Linked DNA regions of Homo sapiens: region 2 is linked to region 1. The links come from fine-mapping of genetic effects on gene expression. A gene starts in region 1. The other region holds a variant in brackets. All regions are shown on one strand. Distances are between the middles of the regions.

The links. PIP is the estimated chance that this variant, and not a neighbour inherited with it, causes the effect.
Region 2: its variant is fine-mapped to the expression of WNT8B in whole blood (TOPMed, PIP 0.97).

Annotation. Positions count from the first base shown.
Region 1 is chr10:100,456,104-100,466,105 of GRCh38, reverse strand. It overlaps WNT8B (Wnt family member 8B), which reads right to left and starts at 3,097. Exons shown (of 6, transcript NM_003393.4): 1 at 2,870-3,097. The coding sequence starts at 2,937.
Region 2 is chr10:100,435,524-100,445,628 of GRCh38, reverse strand. No RefSeq gene overlaps it. Among named protein-coding and RNA genes, the nearest start is that of WNT8B, 22 kb to the left of the region's middle. The variant C/T (reference allele first, on the strand shown) is at 5,035.

The DNA.
Region 1 (10,002 bases):
TCTTCACTTGATCATATATGGTTTTTTTTAATCTGTTAGTGGGAAAAATTCAACATGGCAAAAACTTATGACAGAACCCCAGTATGAATTCAGTAATTTTTAAGTGAGTTTGTATTTTATTGTTCATAAAATACACCTAAAAGTAGTAGAACATAGTGTGGAGATCAATAATTTCAGCTTTATGCAATGCTTGGTGAGAATATGGATTCAAAGACCTTCCTCCAATAACTGATTCCTTTGCCAATCAGGAGTCCCACATGTCATCATCAGATGAGATTTCAAGAGCCATAGAAAGGTTACTCTATGAGATGCATGTAGAGGACCAAAAGATGATGTTTTTCAAAAGCTGCCATAAAATCCAATGATTTTAGGTAAATTCTTGCCCTACTGCAGAAGAGAAATGGACCCTGTTTAAATTCCTGCTGCAGACCTTTGGAAAGAAGTAGAGGCGGTGACTTCTGTTGAAGAATGAGAGCAGAGCTATAGTTTACTTCTGTATCCCAGGGCATCCTTCTGATTTGGTGACTGAGTTAGGTGGGGAGAGAGTGAGAAATGAACAGAACTGGGTAAGACCCACTGTCATTATGACATATCATTTGGAGTAAAATGGGGCCAACCAGTTAAGGTAAAACACTTTCTAGGCCTGCTCATTCCAGATGAGTAAGTGCATTGGAAGGAAAATCAAATTGGTTCATCTCTGGCCACCATTATAATCATCATCATCTGCTTGGCTTATCATGCATTCTCATTCTCTATCTTTGGAGCCATAAGGATTAAGACAAACAAATTCAAAGAAAATAATTTTCTCAAGTTACTAAAAGACAGTTCTCCTTGGAAGTGTCCCAACTATAAAAAACTGTGGCAAATACTTTTCAAAGAAATCATCTTGTACTGATTTACCTAGTAAAACTGCATATTATAGGTGAATGTCATCATTATTCTCTCCTTTTCAAGCCCAGGAATTTCTGCTGATGGACTCTTTTAGATAGTAATTTCAGGCAGGCCTACAATTGAACAGCCAAGCAGAAATTGTGGTTCTCTATTTGTTAAATGCTTTTGAGGTCCTTACATAAAAGGTTGATAATGAAGTATTAAGAGAAACATTTCAAAGGCTGTGGTTGGTCAAATTTCTCTGCATGGCATAAAGGGGAAGATGACCTTATGCAAAACCGTGATAGTTTCATTAGAAGCATAATCAACGTTTAATGTTAAATTTAAAAATCACTTTTCAAATGCCACCACAAACAGATTCTTGGTGAAGTACAAATGTTTAATTTAAATTGGGGCTTATAGGAAAAAGCAATTAAAATCTAATTGTATTATAAAGGAGATTTGTACATTTTCTCCTCAAAGTCAGGCAAGGCGAGAAGGGCTCTTAAACCCTGTTTTCTTAAATTAGAACTTTCTTTCACATCTCTTTTTCCTTTTTTCTTTTTGAATCCAGACACTTGAATTTGGACAGACAAGCAACCCAGCCACCTTTCAGTGTGGCTGTGTCAGTATCGGAATGAAATGAACATGACCCCCTCCAGCAGGGAAGGGAACACACAGTAAAGGTATTTTTTATAGAACAATTCTTCACACCGCCCTGGTGACTAGGGAAGGGAATCTCGTGTTTCTCTTTTGCTGATACTGAATCAGCTGAAGAATACCATGAACATCAGTAGAAATGCTCTGAAATAGTCTCCTCTCCCTTTTGTCTTTTTGTTCTCATGAGGGGGAGAGAAGAGAGACCTTTTTTTTAACATTGAAATATTTAATTAAAATGCCAATTAAAAATGGACTAATTGGTGGTTCTGCTTATAATCAGAAATGTTGCAAATTATTGTATTAACTTGCAAATAGTTTTATGAAGTTGGCATACTTCCTATCAACACTCCTATAAAGACGGCTACACTCATTTATGATAAAAATGTATTTTCAATTCTCAAAGGAAGCTTATCTCAGCAAAGAAATTTCTTTTCCTGCTTCCTCAACAGTTTATGTAGCAATTGGATTTATATCTTTGTTAAATAGATGGTCAAAATGAGAGCTGATGAAGAGAGAGACTGAGCTCATATCTGAACTGGAGAGAAACTCCGAACACCCTAGCAACCTGCATTCTGTATGTTATTGTGTACTGGTGTATTTGCTAATGAACAGTTGCATGTATAGATAGTTTATGTGGTTTCCAAGAGCTAAATGAGAATGGTGATGATATTCTTTAGCATTTGTGTTTATAATTTACAAAGCACTTTCATATACGTTATCTGATTTTCTGAACAATTTAGAAATATTTGTAAATTGAACAAATTAAATAAATTTCTCGAGACGTTTAGATTTCTAAAATATCTGGTTTCAAACATGTTTGTTAACCCAATGCCTGCTTAGTGGTTCAAATAAAATTTTTTATGTCTAGGAAATGATAATTTGAGCAATTACTTAGAATATCCTGAAAAAAAAAATAAAGTCAGAAAGTACAAAGTAAGATCCCATTGAATTTTGTCTCCAGACTTTACCTCAAGATCAGATTCAACACACGGTAGAACTTGCTTTGAACTACCTTCCTCCTCTCTACAATGCTGACATCAGGATTTCGTGAAAAGGGCTGCTGTCCATTTACCCCCAAATCACTTTGGGGGAATATTTGTGGAATAGCAATTTATAAAAATAGGAACCCCCGCTCCCATCATTTAGTCCTTTATTGGTAGGGGTCCTAAAGATTCACTAAAATCAGCCATAAATTTAGGAAGAGCCCTACCCCATAGAACAGTTTTTCCTAGGAGAGCTATCAAGGCTTCCTACATTTCTGGAAATGAAATGAGCTTTACCCAACACATTACATACACTTACCTATTCCCAGCTCCAGGTAAGAGTCCAGGTTACTTACCAGCTGTGGCTGAGTTGGAGGACACAGGTGAAAAGACAGATGTACACAGAAGGCTTTGAAAGAAACATAATCCTCTGGAGTAACAGCTAGAGAAAATTCCAAAAAACTGGGAGATGGGTAAGCAAGACGGAGAAATATTCTCCTCAGTGCCAGTGGGATGGAATTCTCAAAGCCCAACTTCCTTGGTGTGTAAGCGATCCCAAACAGAGTTAAGGGGAGGTGAAATGGAGCTGCCAAACGTCCAAAGAAGAGATTATCTACTTAATTAAAGTTTTTTTTCCCCTCTAAGTCCTTCAGCCAATCAGAACTCAAGTGCCAGAGAAAGATTGAGTCGATCAAAAGAACACTCCAGGATCCTCCCAGACAAATGCAGAAGAAGGGGACCAGGAGAAAGAGGACAAAGAAAGAAGCGGGGGGAAGAGACATAGCAAATCCCCTCCACATAATCACTGCATGGAGTCTCTTTCCTCCCTCTTGCCTATCCCCTCCCATCACACCACAACCTTTTCCCACCTATGCACACTTACACACACACACACACACACAACACACACACACACACAGCCTGGTCCCCAAAAGGGATCCAGAAAGGACTGTGCTTTCCTGGTTGTCCTCTGTAGCACTTTGAGACTGAATTTGCATTCAGGATAGCATTTTTTTGTTTGTTTTGTTTTTTCAGAAAAAAATACACCAGGTGCAGGTGAACCTCCACCCTCTGATTTGAGAATGTGGGGATGCAGTCCTACCATCTAGTGTATTCTCTGTCTAAGTTAGAAAGGCTAGAAACTTCAGGAAGCCCGATGGTTTTTTCTTCCTTTCAACTTTTTCATCACACAATTACTTACCAAATGCCTATTTTATTCTCAACACCACCCTAGGCATTGTGGAAATTTTTAAAAACCAAAACATGATTTCTGCCCTAACAACATTTACAGCCTAGTAAGGTGACAATAAAATAACGCAGTTTAATAAAGTATTAGAAAGCTACAAACTGCCTATAATAGTGTAGGCTTATTTAGGGGAGGTTTTCTGAAGAAGGTAGAATTTGAGTTTCGAAGAAGGAAAGAGATTTCAATAGGCACACAAAGGTGATCTCAAAATCCCTACTTTCTTAAACTCAGGTGGCGGAGCCAGGAGGGCACCCAGGCCCTCGCTCACACTTCTCTGGGACTCTGCTCCTTCTGTTCCCTAGGGAGGAGGGTGGCCTCAGCCACAGCACTGGGGATCCTCAAAGGGCTCCAGACTGATGTCTATGTAGCCATATAGCCCCATCTTTTAAAAAAAATTTCAGTTAACTTTTGTGGATACATAGTAGGTATATATATTTATGGAGTACATGTACATGAGATATTTTGATACAGGCATACAATGAATGCATGATAATCACATCAGGGTAAATGAGTATCCATCACCTCAAGCATTAATCCTTTGTGTTACAAACAGTCTAATTATACTCTTAGTTACCATGTACAATGAAATTATTATTGACGATAGTCACCCTGTTGTGCTGTTGAATACTAGGTCTTCTTCATTCTTTCTAACTATTTTCACACCTTCTACTTTAGCATCCGCATCACCTTTCTTAAGGTCTCCCTGAGACAATGGTCTTTGTTCTTTTCTTTTAACCTTGTTCCTCTTGCTCCAAAACCCTCTCTGGCTAGACTGAACCAGAAAATAAAGAATTAATACACAAATTCACTTTCTCCATTACCTAGGCCAGACGATTTAGGGGGTCTTCACCTCAGTATCTTAACTGTGTAATTTTGTTGTCCACATGGAATCTTCTAGACCAAGTCTTTATTTGGGGCTCCAAACCTTATTGTGAGATGAGCTTGGTCAGTTGTGGCTCCTACACAAACAACTTTAGGTCCTCCTCTCTCTTCATTCAGAAAGGGAGCAGTAGAGTCTATTTCAGGCCAAGAGTCAGGTTCTAGGAAGATAAGGAGCAATGACTCCTGGATTTCAGCCTTGACTTCTTCCCTGACCACAGTTTTTGCCATTTACTTGACTAGAGAACTCCTAAGGGATGCAAAAATTCATTGGGAGGTAGAGCAGATTTGGGCAGTTTTTGTGTAAAAAGGGAGAGCTAATTTAAAATGAGTTCATTGAGGCACTGTCCTATCCCCTTAGAATTTCTTCCACAAAGGAGAAAGTTAAGACTTTTATTGTTTGTTTATCTATCTGTCTGTCTGTCTGTCTGTCTGTCTGTCTGTCTGTCTATCTATCTATCTATCTATCTATCTATCTATCTATCTATCTATCTATCTATTTATTTTTAGAGACAGGGTCTCGCTATTCTGTCCAGGCTGGTCTCATACTCCTGGCTTGGCGAGATCATCCAGCCTTGGTCTCCCAATGTGCTGGGATTACAGGCGTGAGCCACCACGCCTGGCCTACTTTTATTGTTTTGCACAAAATTAATACATTCTTATAATAAAAACTTAAACATGACAGAGATAAATAGTGCAAATCCCCTTTGATGACCTGCCTTCTCCCCTCTAGGATAACAGCAGTTAAGTTTTAGATGGTCTTTCAAGAGGTTTTATATGCATATGTAAATATGTATATAAACATTTTCCACAAAAATGAGATTATATAAATTATATTTTGCAAATTGCTTTTCTCATTTAGTAATATGCAACTTTCTTTTTTAAATTTTTTTAATTTTAAATTTTTTTTATTATACTTTAAGTTCTAGGGTACATGTGCACAACATGCAGGTTTGTTACATATGTATACATGTGCCATGTTGGTGTGCTGTACCCGTTAACTCGTCATTTACATTAAGTATATCTCCCAATGCTATCCCTCCCCCCTCCCCCAACCCCACAACAGGCCCTGGTGTGTGATGTTCCCCACGCTGTGTCCAAGTGTTCTCATTGTTCAATTCCCACCTATGTGTGAGAACACATGGTGTTTGGTTTTCTGTCCTTGCGATAGTTTGCTCAGAATGATGGTTTCTAGCTTTATCCATGTCCCTATAGAGGACATGAACTAATCCTTTTTTATGACTGCATAGTATTCCATGGTGTATATGTGCCACATTTTCTTAATCCAGTCTATCATTGATGGACATTTGGGTTGGTTCCAAGTCTTTGCTGTTGTGAATAGTCTTTATAGCAGAATAATCTTTTGAGTATATGCCCAGTAATGGGATGGCTGGGTCAAATGGTATTTCTAGTTCTAGATCCTTGAGGAATCACCACACTGTCTTCCACAATGGTCGAACTAGTTTACAGTCCCACCAACAGTGTAAAAGCGTTCCTATTTCTCCACACCCTCTCCAATGCCTGTTGTTTCCTGACTTTTTAATGATCGCCATTCTAACTGGTGTGAGATGGTACCTCATTGTGGTTTTGATTTGCATTTCTCTGATGGCCAGTGATGATGAGCGTTTTTTCATGTGTCTGTTGGCTGCATAAATGTCTTCTTTAGAGAAGTGCCTGTTCATATCCTTTACCCACTTTTTGATGGGGTTGTTTGATTTTTTCTTGTAAATTTGTTTAAGTTCTTTGTAGATTCTGGATATTAGCCCTTTGTCAGATGGGTAGACTGTAAAATCTTTCTCTCATTCTGTAGGTTGCCTGTTCACTCTGATGGTAGTTTCTTTTGCTGTGCAGAAGCTCTTTAGTTTAATTAGATCCCATTTGTCAATTTTGGCTTTTGTTGCCATTGCTTTTGGTGTTTTAGTCATGAAGTCCTTGCCCATGCCTATGGCCTGAATGGTATTGCCTAGGTTTTCTTCTAGGGTTTTTATGGTTTTAGGTCTAACATTTAAGTCTTTAACCCATCTTGAATTAACTTTTTTTATAAGGTGTAAGGAAGGGATCCAGTTTCAGCTTTCTACATATGGCTAGCCAGTTTTCCTAGCACCATTTTTAAATAGGGAATCCTTTCCCCATTTCTTGTTTTTGTCAGGTTTGTCAAAGATCAGATGGTTGTAGATATGTGGCATTATTTCTGAGGCCTCTGTTCTGTTCCATTGGTCTATATCTCTGTTTTGGTACCAGTACCATGCTGTTTTGGTTACTGTAGCCTTGTAGTATAGTTTGAAGTCAGGTAGCGTGATGCTCCAGCTTTGTTCTTTTGGCTTAGGATTGTCTTGGCAATGCGGGCTCTTTTTTGGTTCCATATGAACTTTAAAGTAGTTTTTTCCAATTCTGTGAAGAAAGTCATTGGTAGTTTGATGGGGATGGCATTGAATCTATAAATTACCTTGGGCAGTATGGCCATTTTCACGATATTGATTTTTCCTATCCAAGAGCATGGAATGTTCTTCCATTTGTTTGTGTCCTCTTTTGTTTTGTTGAGCAGTGGTTTGTAGTTCTCCTTGAAGAGGTCCTTCACTTCCCTTGTAAGTTGGGTTCCTAGGTATTTTATTCTCTTTGAAGCAATTGTGAGTGGGAGTTCACTCATGATTTGGCTCTCTGTTTGTCTGTTATTGGCGTATAGGAATGCTTGTGATTTTCGCACATTGATTTTGTATCCTGAGACTTTGCTGAAGTTGCTTACCAGCTTAAGGAGATTTTGGGCTGAGACGATGGGGTTTTCTAAATATACAATCATGTCATCTGCAAACAGGGACAATTTGACTTCCTCTTTTCCTAATTGAATACCCTTTATTTCTTTCTCTTGCCTGATTGCCCTGGCCAGAACTTCCAACACTATGTTGACTAGGAGTGGTGAGAGAGGGCATCCCTGTCTTATGCCAGTTTTCAAAGGGAATGCTTCCAGTTTTTGCCCATTCGGTATGATATTGGCTGTGGATGTGTCATAAATAGCTCTTATTATTTTGAGATACGTCCCATCAATACCTAGTTTATTGAGAGTTTTTAGCATGAAGGGCTGTTGAATTTTGTTGAAGGCCTTTTCTGCATCTATTGAGATAATCATGTGATTTTTGTATTTGGTTCTGTTTATATGATGGATTACATTTATTGATTTGCATATGTTGAACCAGCCTTGCATCCCAGGGATGAAGCCAACTTGATCGTGGTGGATAAGCTTTTTGATGTGGTGCTGGATTCGGTTTGCCAGTATTTTATTGAGGATTTTTGCGTCGGTGTTCACCAGGGATATTGGTCTAAAATTCTCTTTTTTTGTTGTGTCTCTGCCAGGCTTTGGTATCAGGATGATGTTGGCCTCATAAAATGAATTAGGGAGGATTCCCTCTTTTTCTATTGATTGGAATAGTTTCAGAAGGAATGGTACCAACTCTTCTTTGTACCTCTGGTAGAATTTGGCTGTGAATCCGTCTGGTCCTGGACTGTTTTTTGGTTGGTAGGCTATTAATTGTCTCAATTTCAGAACCTGTTATTGGTCTATTCAGGGATTCAATTTCTTCCTGGTTTAGTCTTGGGAGGGTGTATGTGTCCAGGAATTTATCCATTTCTTCTAGATTTTCTAGTTTATTTGTGTAGAGATATTTATAATATTCTCTGATGGTAGTTTGTATTTCTGTGGGATCGGTAGTGATATCCCGTTTATCATTTTTTATTGCGTCTATTTGATTCTTCTCTCTTTTCTTCTTTATTAGTCTTGCTAGCGGTCTATCAATTTTGTTGATCTTTTCAAAAAACCAGCTCCTGGATTCATTGATTTTTTTGAAGGGTTTTTTGTGTCTCTATTTCCTTCAGTTCTGCTCTGATCTTAGTTATTTCTTGCCTTCTGCCAGCTTTTGAATGTGTTTGCTCTTGCTTCTCTAGTTCTTTTAATTGTGATGTTAGGGTGTCAATTTTAGATCTTTCCTGCTTTCTCTTGTGGGCATTTAGTGCTACAAATTTCCCTCTGCACACTGCTTTGAATGTGTCCCAGAGATTCTGGTATGTTGTGTCTTTGTTCTCGTTGGTTTCAAAGAACACCTTTATTTCTGCCTTCATTTTGTTATGTACCCAGTAGTCATTCAGAAGCAGGTTGTTCAGTTTCCATGTAGTTGAGCGGTTTTGAGTGAGTTTCTTAATCCTGAGTTCTAGTTTGATTGCACTGTGGTCTGAGAGACAGTTTGTTATAATTTCTGTTCTTTTACATTTGCTGAGGAGTGCTTTACTTCCAACTATGTGGTCAATTTTGGAATAAGTGTGATGTGGTGCTGAGAAGAATGTATAATGTCTATTCTGTTGATTTGGGGTGGAGAGGTCTGCTCGGTGCGGAGCTGAGTTCAATTCCTTGATATCCTTGTTAACTTTCTGTCTCGTTGATCTGTCTAATGTTGACAGTGGGGTGTTAAAATCTCCCATTATTATTGTGTGGGAGTCTAAGTCTCTTTGTAGGTCTCTAAGGACTTGCTTTATGAATCTGGGTGCTCTGTATTGGGTGCAATATATATAAATATATTTAGGATAGTTAGCTCTTCTTGTTGAATTGATCCCTTTACCATTATGTAATGGCCTTCTTTGTCTCTTTTGATCTTTGTTGGTTTAAAGTCTGTTTTATCAGAGACTAGGATTGCAACCCCTGCTTTTTTTTTGTTTTCCATTTGCTTGGTAGATCTTCCTCCATCCCTTCATTTTGAGCCTATGTGTGTCTCTACACGTGAGATGGGTCTCCTGAATATAGCACACTGATGGGTCTTGACTCTTTATTCAATTTGCCAGTCTGTGTCTTTTAATTGGAGCATTTAGCCCATTTATGTTTAAGGTTAATATTGTTATGTGTGAATTTGATCCTGTCATTATGAAGTTAGCTGGCTATTTTGCTCGTTAGTTGATGCAGTTTCTTCCTAGCACTGATGGTCTTTACAATTTGGCATGTTTTTGTAGTGGCTGGTACTGGTTGTTCCTTTCCATGTTTAGTGCTTCCTTCAGGAGCTTTTGTAAGGCAGGCCTGGTGGGGACAAAATCTCTCAGCATTTGCTTGTCTGTAAAGGATTTTATTTCTCCTTCACTTATGAAGCTTAGTTTGGCTGGATATGAAATTTCTGGGTTGAAAATTCTTTTCTTTAAGAATGTTGAATATTGGCCCCCACTCTCTTCTGGCTTGTAGAGTTTCTGCCGAGAGATCCGCTGTTAGACTGATGGGCTTCCCTTTGTGGGTAACCCGACCTTTCTCTCTGGCTGCCCTTAACATTTTTTCCTTCATTTCAACTTTGGTGAATCTGACAATTATGTGTCTTGGAGTTGCTCTTTTCAAGGAGT
Region 2 (10,105 bases), 21 kb after region 1:
GTCATAAAGTATTGTCAGTTTTGAACATTATTAAATTTAGTTTTCTAACACTTTATTAGGATTTTGCATCTATATTACTGAGTGACTATGACCTATAATTTTCCTTATTCATAAAGTTTTTGTCAAGTTTTATAAGAATTCTGCCAGTTTCACAAAATTAATTGGGAGTGATTTATCCTTTTCTGTACTCTGAATTGATTTGCACAAGTTGGAATCATTTGGCCCTTGAATGTATGTGAGAACTCACTGGTGAAACCACCTGGACTTGATTTTTAGCTATTGCTTTAATGCCTTGTTATAGGATTATTAAGGGTTTTTCTTTCTTCTTGAGTCAGTCTTGGTAAATTGTATTTTTTCCTGGAAGATGGTTCATTTGATGAAAGTTTTCATATACATTGGCTTATAGTTGTTTATAATATACCCCATCTCTGCTAAAAAAATGCAAAATTAGGTGGGTGTGGTGGTGCATGCCTGTAATCCCAGATACTTGGGAGGCTGAGGCAGGAGAATTGCTTGAACCCGGGAGGTGGAGGTTGCAGTGAGCCGAGATCGCGCCATTGCACTCCAGCCTGGGCAACAAGAGTGAAACTCCATCTCAAAAAAAAAAAAAAAAAAAAAAAGGAATTCATAGTAGTAACTCAAATAAATGTATTGAGCAATTCCTACAACCCTAAAAAGGGGTTTACATGAATGAAGTCATTTAATCTCACGACTCTATGAGGGATGCAATATCATTGCCCTCATTTATGAGTGAAGCAACCAAGGTTTAGAGAAGCAAGGTAAGGTGCCCAGATTTACACAGTAGGTAAGTGGCAGAAGTAGGATTTGAACCTAGGTGTGCCTGACTCCAGTGCTTATTCTAACAATAGTGCTATACTGTTTAACAAAACTGAGGTATCATCATAACTTTGGCTAGTGCAGTCTATAGGATCCTCAGTTCTGTTTACTTTTTCCCCATCTCAACTTTAAGATTTACCCCTAAAGCCCACTTTTTTTTTTTTTGAGACAGAGTTTCACTCTGTTGCCCAGGCTGGGGTGCAGTGGTGCGACCTTGGCTCACTGCAGCCTTGACCTCCAGGGTGCAAGCAACCCTCCCACCTCAGCCTCCCAAGTAGCTGGGATTACAGGCATGCACCACCACACCCCACTAATTTTTGTAGTTTTTAGGTAGAGACCATGGCAGGGGGATCTCCCTGTGTTGCCCAGGCTGGTCTCAAACTCCTGGGCTCTAGTGATCTCCCTCCTGGCCTCCTAAAGTGGTTGGATTACAGGCATGAGCCACTGCAGCCAGCCCAAAGCCCACTTTTTTAGTCTTAATAACTTCTCACTAAAGTACGCTTTTGGCCAGGTGCGGTGGCTCACGCCTATAATCCCAGCAGTTTGAGAGGCTGAGGTGGGTGGATCGATTGAAGCCAGGAGTTCGAGACCAACCTGACCAACCTGGTAAAACCCCATCTCTACTAAAAATACAAAAATTAGCCCGGTGTGGTGGCATGCACCTGTAATCCCAGCTATTTGGGAGGCTGAGACACGAGAATCACTTGAACCTGGGAGGTGGAGGTTGCAGTAAGCCGAGATCGTGCCACTGCACTCCAGCCTGGGTGAAGAGTGAGACTCCGTCTCAAGAAAAAAGAAGAGTGCTTTTAATGGTTATTCATTCAACCTTCTTCTGGAAGGTTGAAATTCACTGGAATTTCAGACCCTGTACCTATACCCCGCTTTGCGTGGAGTGGTGAAACCACAGGTGGGCCAGCAATGTTGGGTAGCTTTTCTAGGAGCTACAACCTTTAAGATGTTTCAAAACTTCTTCTCATTTGAACCTGCAGGTTCTTGAGAAGGTCCAAGCATTTTCACAAAAGGCCATTATGAAAACACATGTAGAATCTACAGATAAATAGTTTTTTTTGTTTTTTATTTTTGAAATGGAGTCTCACTCTGCCGCCCAGGCTGGAGTGCAGTGGTGCGATCTCAGCTCACTGCAACCTGTGCCTCCTGGGTTCAAGCGATTCTCCTGCCTCAGCCTCCCAAAGTGCTGGGATTACAGGTGTGAGCCACTGTGCCTGGCCAGATAAAGAAATTTAATAAGAGGTAGGTGATGTAGGACTGCTCTTTTTAAGTAGGTACTTATACGTTGAGTTTTTCTTATGTAGGCTATTTCAAGCAGTAATATTTGGGTTGAATACTGGGCTTCACAGATGAAACTTGAGACCGAGAACTTTTGACAAGGACCAGAGAGAACAGCAATGTGAGATATGATGAGAAGTAGAATTATTGTTGAGAAGGCCTGGTACATTTATTATTGACCATGGTAAGCTAATTTAATTATTCCATTGAGCACCAGACAAATGAGAAGAGACAGGACAGAAATTGCTTTGGGAAGGATTAGGTTGGATATTAGGAGAACCATTCTGACAACTAAATATTATTGGACACTGGACTTCATTTTTATTGTCAGAAAAATGGTGGAATCTTTTCTGAAAACATTTAAGTAGAGAACTGGCTGCTCTCTTTCCAGACTGCTTGAAGGTCACCCATTCATTCATTCAACAAACATGTGAGTGTCTGTGGTGTGCTAGACACTGCTGTATGCACTGAGGATACAGCTGTGAAGAAGAAAGAAACTAATTATTGTTGTCTTGAAGGTGGTGGTTGGGAGAGGGAAATAATGAACAAATGGCAAAATAACTTCAGATAATATATGCTATGAAATTATAATGAATAGGGACTGACTACAGGCCTACCTCAGATGTGGTCACAGAAGTCATTTCTGAAGAAGTGATACATGAGGGGAGGCCTGAAAGATAGGAAGGCGCATTAGGCATAGTTCCGAGGAAGAACATTCCAAGTGAAAGAACAGTAAACACAAAGGTCTAGAGGCAGGAGCAAGTTAGGCAGGTTTTTGGAGCCAAAAGATCTGTATGGCTGAATATGGTAAGCAAAGAGGGGAGGGTAGCTGGAGATAAGGTCAGAGAGGTAGAATAAGCTAGATCAGGAAGTGTCTACTAGATGTTTGTTTGTTTGTTTGTTTGTTTATTGAGATAGAGTCTTGCTCTGACACCGAGGCTGGAGTGCAGTGGCATGATCTCGGCTTACTGCAACCTCTGCCTCCTGGGTTCAAGTGATGCTCCTGCCTTGGCCTCCCAAGTAGCTGGAATTACAGGTGCCCGCCACCACGCTCAGCGAATTTTTTTTTTTTTTTTTTTTTGAGACAGAGTCTCGCTGTGTAGCCCAGGCTGGAGTGCAGCGGCGTGATCTCGGCTCACTGCAACTTCCGCCTCCCAGGTTCAAGCGATTCTCCTGCCTCAGCCTCCTGAGTAGCTGGGATTACAGGCATGCACCACTACACCGGCTAATTTTTTTTTGTATTTTAGTAGAGATGGGGTTTCACCATGTTGGCCAGGATGGTCTCGATCTCCTGACCTCATGATCTGCCCACCTCAGCCTCCCAAAGTGCTGGGATTACAGGCATGACCCGCTATACCTGGCCTGTATTTTTTTTTAGTAGAGACGGGGTTTCGCCATGTTGGCCAGGCTGGTCTCGAACTCCTGACCTCAGATGATCTGCCTGCCTCGGCCTCCCAAAGTGCTGGGATTACAGACATGAGCCACCGCTCCTGGCCTCTACCATATATTTGGATTGTATTCTAAGAGCAATTGGAAGCCATAGGAGGGTTTTAAGCAGAAGAGCATCACATCATGATATGCTTTATATTTTAGAAAAAAATATCCTGGATGCTGCGTGAAGAGTGGATTAGAGGAGTGATAGAAAAGAAACAGAGAGGCTGGGCACGGTGTCTCACACCTGTAATCCCAGCACTTTGGGAGGCCAAGGCCGGTGGATCACTTGAGGTCAGGAGTTCAAGACCAGCCTGGCCGACATGGTGAAACCCTGTCTGTAATATAAATACAAAAATTAGCCAGGTGTGGTGGTGCGTGCCTGTAATCCCAGCTGCTCGGGAGGCTGAGGCAGGAGAATCACCTGAACCCAGCAGGCAGAGGTTGCAGTGAGCCAAGGCCTCACTACTGCACTCCAGCCGCGGTGACAGAGTGAGACTCCATTTCAAAAAAAAAGAAAAGCAGAGAGAACCATTTAGGAAGCTAGTGTGGTAGTCCAGGGGAAAGATTTCATTGCGTTTTCTAAAATTTTATTTCATTTTATTTTATTTTTTGAGATGGAGTCTCACTCTCATCCAGGCTGGAGTGCAATGGCACAATCTCGGCTCACTGTAACCTCCTCCTCCTGGGTTCAAGTGATTCTCCTACACCAGCCTCCAGAACAGCTGGGATTACAGGCATGCGCCACCATGCCCAGCTAATTTTTGTATTTTTAGTAGAGACAGGGTTTCACTATATTGGCCAGGCTGGTCTCGAACTCCTGACATCAGCTTATCTCCCCACCTTGGCCTCCCAAAGAGCAGGGATTATAGTGAGACCCCCCATCTCTATTTTAAAAATTTAAAAATAATGAAAATAAATAAAACTGCTGTGAACATTTAGTACAAGTGTTTAATGGATCTATGTCTTCATTTATTTGGGATAAATACTTAGAAATGGAATGGCTGGGTTTATAGTAGGTGTATGCTTAACATTTTAAGAAGCTGCCAAACTTTTCCAAAATGGGTTTTTTTGTTGTTGTTGTTTGTTTGGTTTTTCTTTTAGATGGAGTCTCGCTCTGTCGCCTAGGCTGGAGTGCAGTGGTGTGATCTCAGCTTACTGCAACCTCCACCTCCTGGCTCAAGTGATGCTCTTGCCTCAGCCTCCTGAGTAGCTGGGACTACAGGCGTGTACCACCACACCCAAGTAATTTTTTGTATTTTTAATAGAGACGGGCTTTCACCTTGTTGGCCAGGTTGGTCTCGAACTCCTGATCTCAGATTCACCTGCCTCAATCTCCCGAAGTGTTGGAGTTACAGGCGTGAGCCACCGTGTCCACGCAAGCCCAGGAGTTTGAAACAGCCTGGGCAACATAGTAAGACGCTTTCTGTAAAAAAAAGAAAGGAAGAAAGTTCTGGTTGCTTCCCATTCTTGCCAAAA[C/T]ACTCATCTGGATTATGGCTCTTGTAAGTGTGTAGTAGTATCACTGAGGTTTTAATTTGCATTTCTCTACTGGCTAATGAGGTTGAACATCTTTTTCTGTGCTTATTTGCTATCCATATATCTTTCTTTTTTTTTTTTTTTGAGACGGAGTGTTGCTCTGTCGCCCAGGCTGGAGTGCAGTGGCGTGATCTCGGCTCACTGCAAGCTCCGCCTCCCGGGTTCACGCCATTCTCCTGCCTCAGCCTCCTGAGTAGCTGAGACTACAGGCACCTGCCACCATGCCCAGCTAATTTTTTTTTTTTTTTTCCAGTAGAGATGGGGTTTCACCGTGTTAGCCAGAATGGTCTTCGTCTCCTGACCTCGAGATCCTCCCGCCTCAGCCTCCCAAAGTGCTGGGATTACAGGCTTGAGCCACCGTGCCTGGCTGCTATCCATATATCTTCTTGGGTGAGTTTTCTATTCAAATAGTTTCCCCATTTTAAAAATTGGGTTGTTTGTTTTATTATTACTGAATTTTGAGAGCTCTCTCTATATTCTGGATACAAGTCCTTTATCAGATACAAGACCCCTTTAGGGGTCTGTCAGCTGTCCTGTTGCTTCCTTTGATTTTTCCCATGCAGATGCTGAAATGGTACACTACTTGTGGATATTGAGTTATTTCTGTATTCTCCCAGTCTGTTGCTTGTCTTTTTTCTTTTCTTAACAAACTTCAAAGAGCAAAAGCTCATAATTTTGAGGAATTTTAAGTTATTGGGTTTTTTTTCTTATATGAAATCTTGGGTTGAGCAAAAACTTATTAGATACTATTATGCAGGTTACAAAAGTATTCTCCTGGCTGGGTACAGTGACTTATGCCTGTAATCCCAGCACTTTGGGAGGCTGAGGTGGGTGGATCACTTGAGGTCAGGAGTTCGAGACCAGTCTGACCAATATGGTGAAACCCCATCTCTACTAAAAATACAAAAATTAGCTGGGCATGGTGGTGTGTGCCTGTAATCTCAGCTTCTCAGGAGGCTGAGACAGGAGAATTGCTTGAACCTGGGAGGCAGAGGTTGCAGTGAGCCGAGATCGCAACACTGTACTCCAGCCTGGGCGACAAAGCAAGAGATGAGAAAGGATGTTTTTGGCTGGGCATGGTGGCTTAGGCCTGGAATCCCAGCACTCCTGAGGTGGGAGGATCACTTGATCGCTTGAGCCCAGGAGTTTCAGACCAGCCTGGGAAACATAGTAAGACCTCATCTCTACAAAAAAATTAAAAAAAAAAAATTTCAGAAAGGAAGGATATTTTCTTTTCCTGAATTATAGCACACTCCAGAAAAGCTATGCTGAAAGCACAGCAAATGTAAAAGTAAGGAGCTGAGGTACCAGAAGATCTCATTACATTCTATGAATAGTTATTGAGCACCTGTTACGTGCTTAGGAACTGTTAGGCTCTGGAGAGACAACAGTCAACAGTACACAATTCTTATCCTCAAGGTGATTCCATGGAGTAAACAGGCAATTGGCTGTACAGTGAGAGCACAGAGGAAGGGAGGGGTGCAGTTAGGGGGTGAAGATGGAGATTGCGGCGGTGAGGCAGGTAAAGAGATCTGGGGATGAAGCTGGGAAGACTGGCATGGTGGGGTGCCAATCGCTATTTTCTTCTTCGTTCTCTTTATTAGTTTCTCCTGATTGCTACTGTGAGAGAGTATTTATAGCTGCTGACTCTTCCTGCTTTACATACACTTTGACACATTATTATATCCCTGAGTGTTCTGACAGCTGTGATCATGACTTTCCAATGGTCGATTATGTATCTGACATAGGGGAGCCCAATAAAACCCAGCTAGGAATTAAAGATATTTTTGTATTCTTTTTCTTAAAGAGTGTTCCTTAAATTGTATAAGCTTCAGGACCCATAAAATCTCAATCAGCCCCAAGATATAGAGGATGATCCTGATGCATATTATTCTCTGCATCTTGCACGTTTATTTTTGCAACTAGCTACAGGATACTTTTCTAGAAAATGGGGGTTTGAGTTTTAATCAGTGAAAAAACTTCAGACCATTGAATAAATTTTTAAACTTTTTTTAGTGTAGGTGAAAATAAAAAGCTAAAATTAGGCCAGATGTGGTGGCTCACACCTATAATCCCAGCACTTTGGGAGGCCAAGGCGGGTGGATCATTTGAGGCCAGCAGTTCAAGACCAGCCTGACCAACATGGTAAAATCCCGTATTTACTAAAAATACAAAAATTAGCCGGGCATGGTGGCGGGTGCCTGTAATCCCAGCTACTCAGGAGGCTGAGGCAGGAGAATTGCTTGAACCCAGGAGATGGAGGTTGCAGTGAACCAAGGCTGAGCCACTGCACTCCAGCCTGGGTGACAGAGTGAAACTGTCTTATAAAAATAAAAAGTTGGCCGGGTGCGCTGGCTCACACCTGTAATCCCAGCACTCTGGGAGGCCGAAGTGGGCGGATCACCTGAGGTCAGGAGTTCCAGACCAGCCTGGCCAACATGGTGAAACTCTGTCTCTACTAAAAATAAAACATTAGCTGGGTGTGGTAGCATGCGCCTGTAGTCCCAGCTACTCGGGAGGCTGAGGCAGGAGAATCACTTGATTCTGGGCGACAGAGCGAGATTCTGTCTAAAAGAAAAAAAAGAAAAAAGTTAAAATTCTTAAACTGTTATGCATGAAAGATAGTCGGGACCTCTCCCAGCAATGAGATTAAAGATCTTTCATTGTCCATACGTTGGCTGTTCTTATTTTATCTTCAATATTTGCCACTTTCCCTTTAATCTATTTCTTTTTGGGTTATTTTCTATTTATTTATTTACTTTTTTTGAGACAGGTCTTGCTCTATCTCCCAGGCTGAAGTGCAGCGGCACAACCATAGCTCACTGAAGCTTTGATCTCCTTGGGCTCAGGTGATCCTCTCACCCCAGCCCCCCAAGTGGCTCAGACTACAGGCACATGCCATCATGCTCAGTTAATATACATATATATATATATATATATATATATATATATATATATTTTTTTTTTTTTTTTTTTTTTTTTTTTTTGAGAGAGATGTGGTCTCCCTATGTTGCCCAGGCTGGTCTCGAACTCCTGTGCTCAAGTGATTCTCCCGCCTCAGCCTCCCAAAATGCTGGGATTACAGGTGTAAGCCACCATACCCAGCTCTTTTTTGTTTTTTAAATGTTCCCTGTTTTTTGCCTTCTATTTCTCTCTTTTTTTTTTTGAGACAGAGTTTCACTCTTGTCACCCAGGCTGGAGTACAATCTCGGCTCACTGCAACCTCCGCCTCCTGGGTTCAAGTGATTCTCCCGCTTCAGCTTCCCAAGTAGCTGGGATTACAGGCACGTGCCACCATGCCCAGCAAATTTTTGTATTTTTAGTAAGGACAGGATTTCACCATGTTGGCCAGGCTGGTCTCAAACTCTTGACCTCAGGTGATCCACCCGCCTAGGCCTCCCAAAGTGCTGGGATTACAGGTGTGAGCCACAGCGCCCGGCCTTCACCTCCTATTTTTCTTAAGGCATTATTTGTTGTGCCTATTCACTGTGGTGTTTCTGATAGTTTGTCTTTATTTTTGAAATTATTTTCTTTCTAATTATTTCCTGAGTTCTGTCACTTTATTTCTGCGTTTGTCTGTTTCTGGTTTTTACTATTCTTTTATGTCTTATATCATTTAAAAAGGGTTTTCCAGTTGGTTTCAAAGCAAGAAATTGTAGAGTTTTACTCTGTTTCTAATATGCTTTCATTGCCTGTAGAAACTATTCTGCCTCTTATTCTCCTTTTCCTCATAATAACTTTTATTAGATTTAATCTTGATACTTTTCTGTTGCTTATTTCTATGAGGTTGGCTTCCTGAAATTTTAGGAAATAGGAGTGTAGTGTTTAAAAATATGATGGCTTGCTTTCTGTGACTCTGATATTGTTGCTTTCCTCCCCCGCCTAATCTGAACACCTCTTTTATTGGCCTTTTTTTATCCCAGTCCTGCTTAATTTTGACTCTACATCTGGACGTTTTTCTTCAGTGTGTGGCCATGTCCTGAAATGGGGCCCTGGTTGGTCAGTTTCATGGGTTTCTAGGGGCTGGATTGCTCTAGCCAGACTCATGGGCCCCACACGCACTCACCCACTAATAGGATTAGGCCAAACTCCTCCAGTTCTACCTCTTGTTTTCAGATTGACCCACCTCACTTTCCCGTTGGCTCTTTTGGAGTTCTCCAGTTGGGGGTCTGTCAGCTGTCCTGTTGCTTCCTTTGCTTTTCCCATGCAGATGCTGAAATGGTCCAGAGCTTGTGGGTATTGAGTTTCACCTGCTTGCATATGGGATTCCTAGGGATACCTTGTCACCTAGTTTTGCAAAATGTGGTCCAGGGATTTTGGGTTTGTTATCTAGTTGCTCTCCCAGTTTTGATATGGGAATTTGGAGAGATTAAACAACTGTGCCTTCATCATTGCCATCTATCTAATATCTGTATTTGATTTGGTGGGGAGAAGAGAAAAAATAATATATTCTAGTTGTTTAAAAAAAAATCAGAGGCATGTAAAATAAAAATGGAATGCTGTTCTTTTCCCAGTTCCATTCTCCAGAGGTATTTACTGTTAAGAGTTGAGTATATTTCGGCCGGGAGCAGTGGCTCACGCCTATAATCCCAGCACTTTAGGAGGCTGAGGCAGGCGGATCACCTGAGGTCAGGAGTTCAAGACCAATCTGGCTAACATGGCAAAACCCCGTCTCTACTAAAAATACAAAAATTAGCCAGGCATGGTGGTGCGCACATGTAGTCCCAGCTACTTGGGAGGCTGAGGCAAGACAATCGCTTGAACTCGGGAGGTGAAGGTTGCAGTGAGCCAAGATGGTGCCACTGTACTCCAGCCTGGTGACAGAGTGAGACTCCGTCTCAAAAAAAAAAAAAAAAAAAAAAAAAAAGAGTTGAGTATATTTCCTTCCAAATACTTTTCTATTCTTTTGCTGTTTATGTACTTTTCTATCACTTTGCTGTCTGCATTTTCTTGCAATTTTCTTTTTCCATGTATATATTTTCCAACATACAACAATATATTGGGCACCATCTTT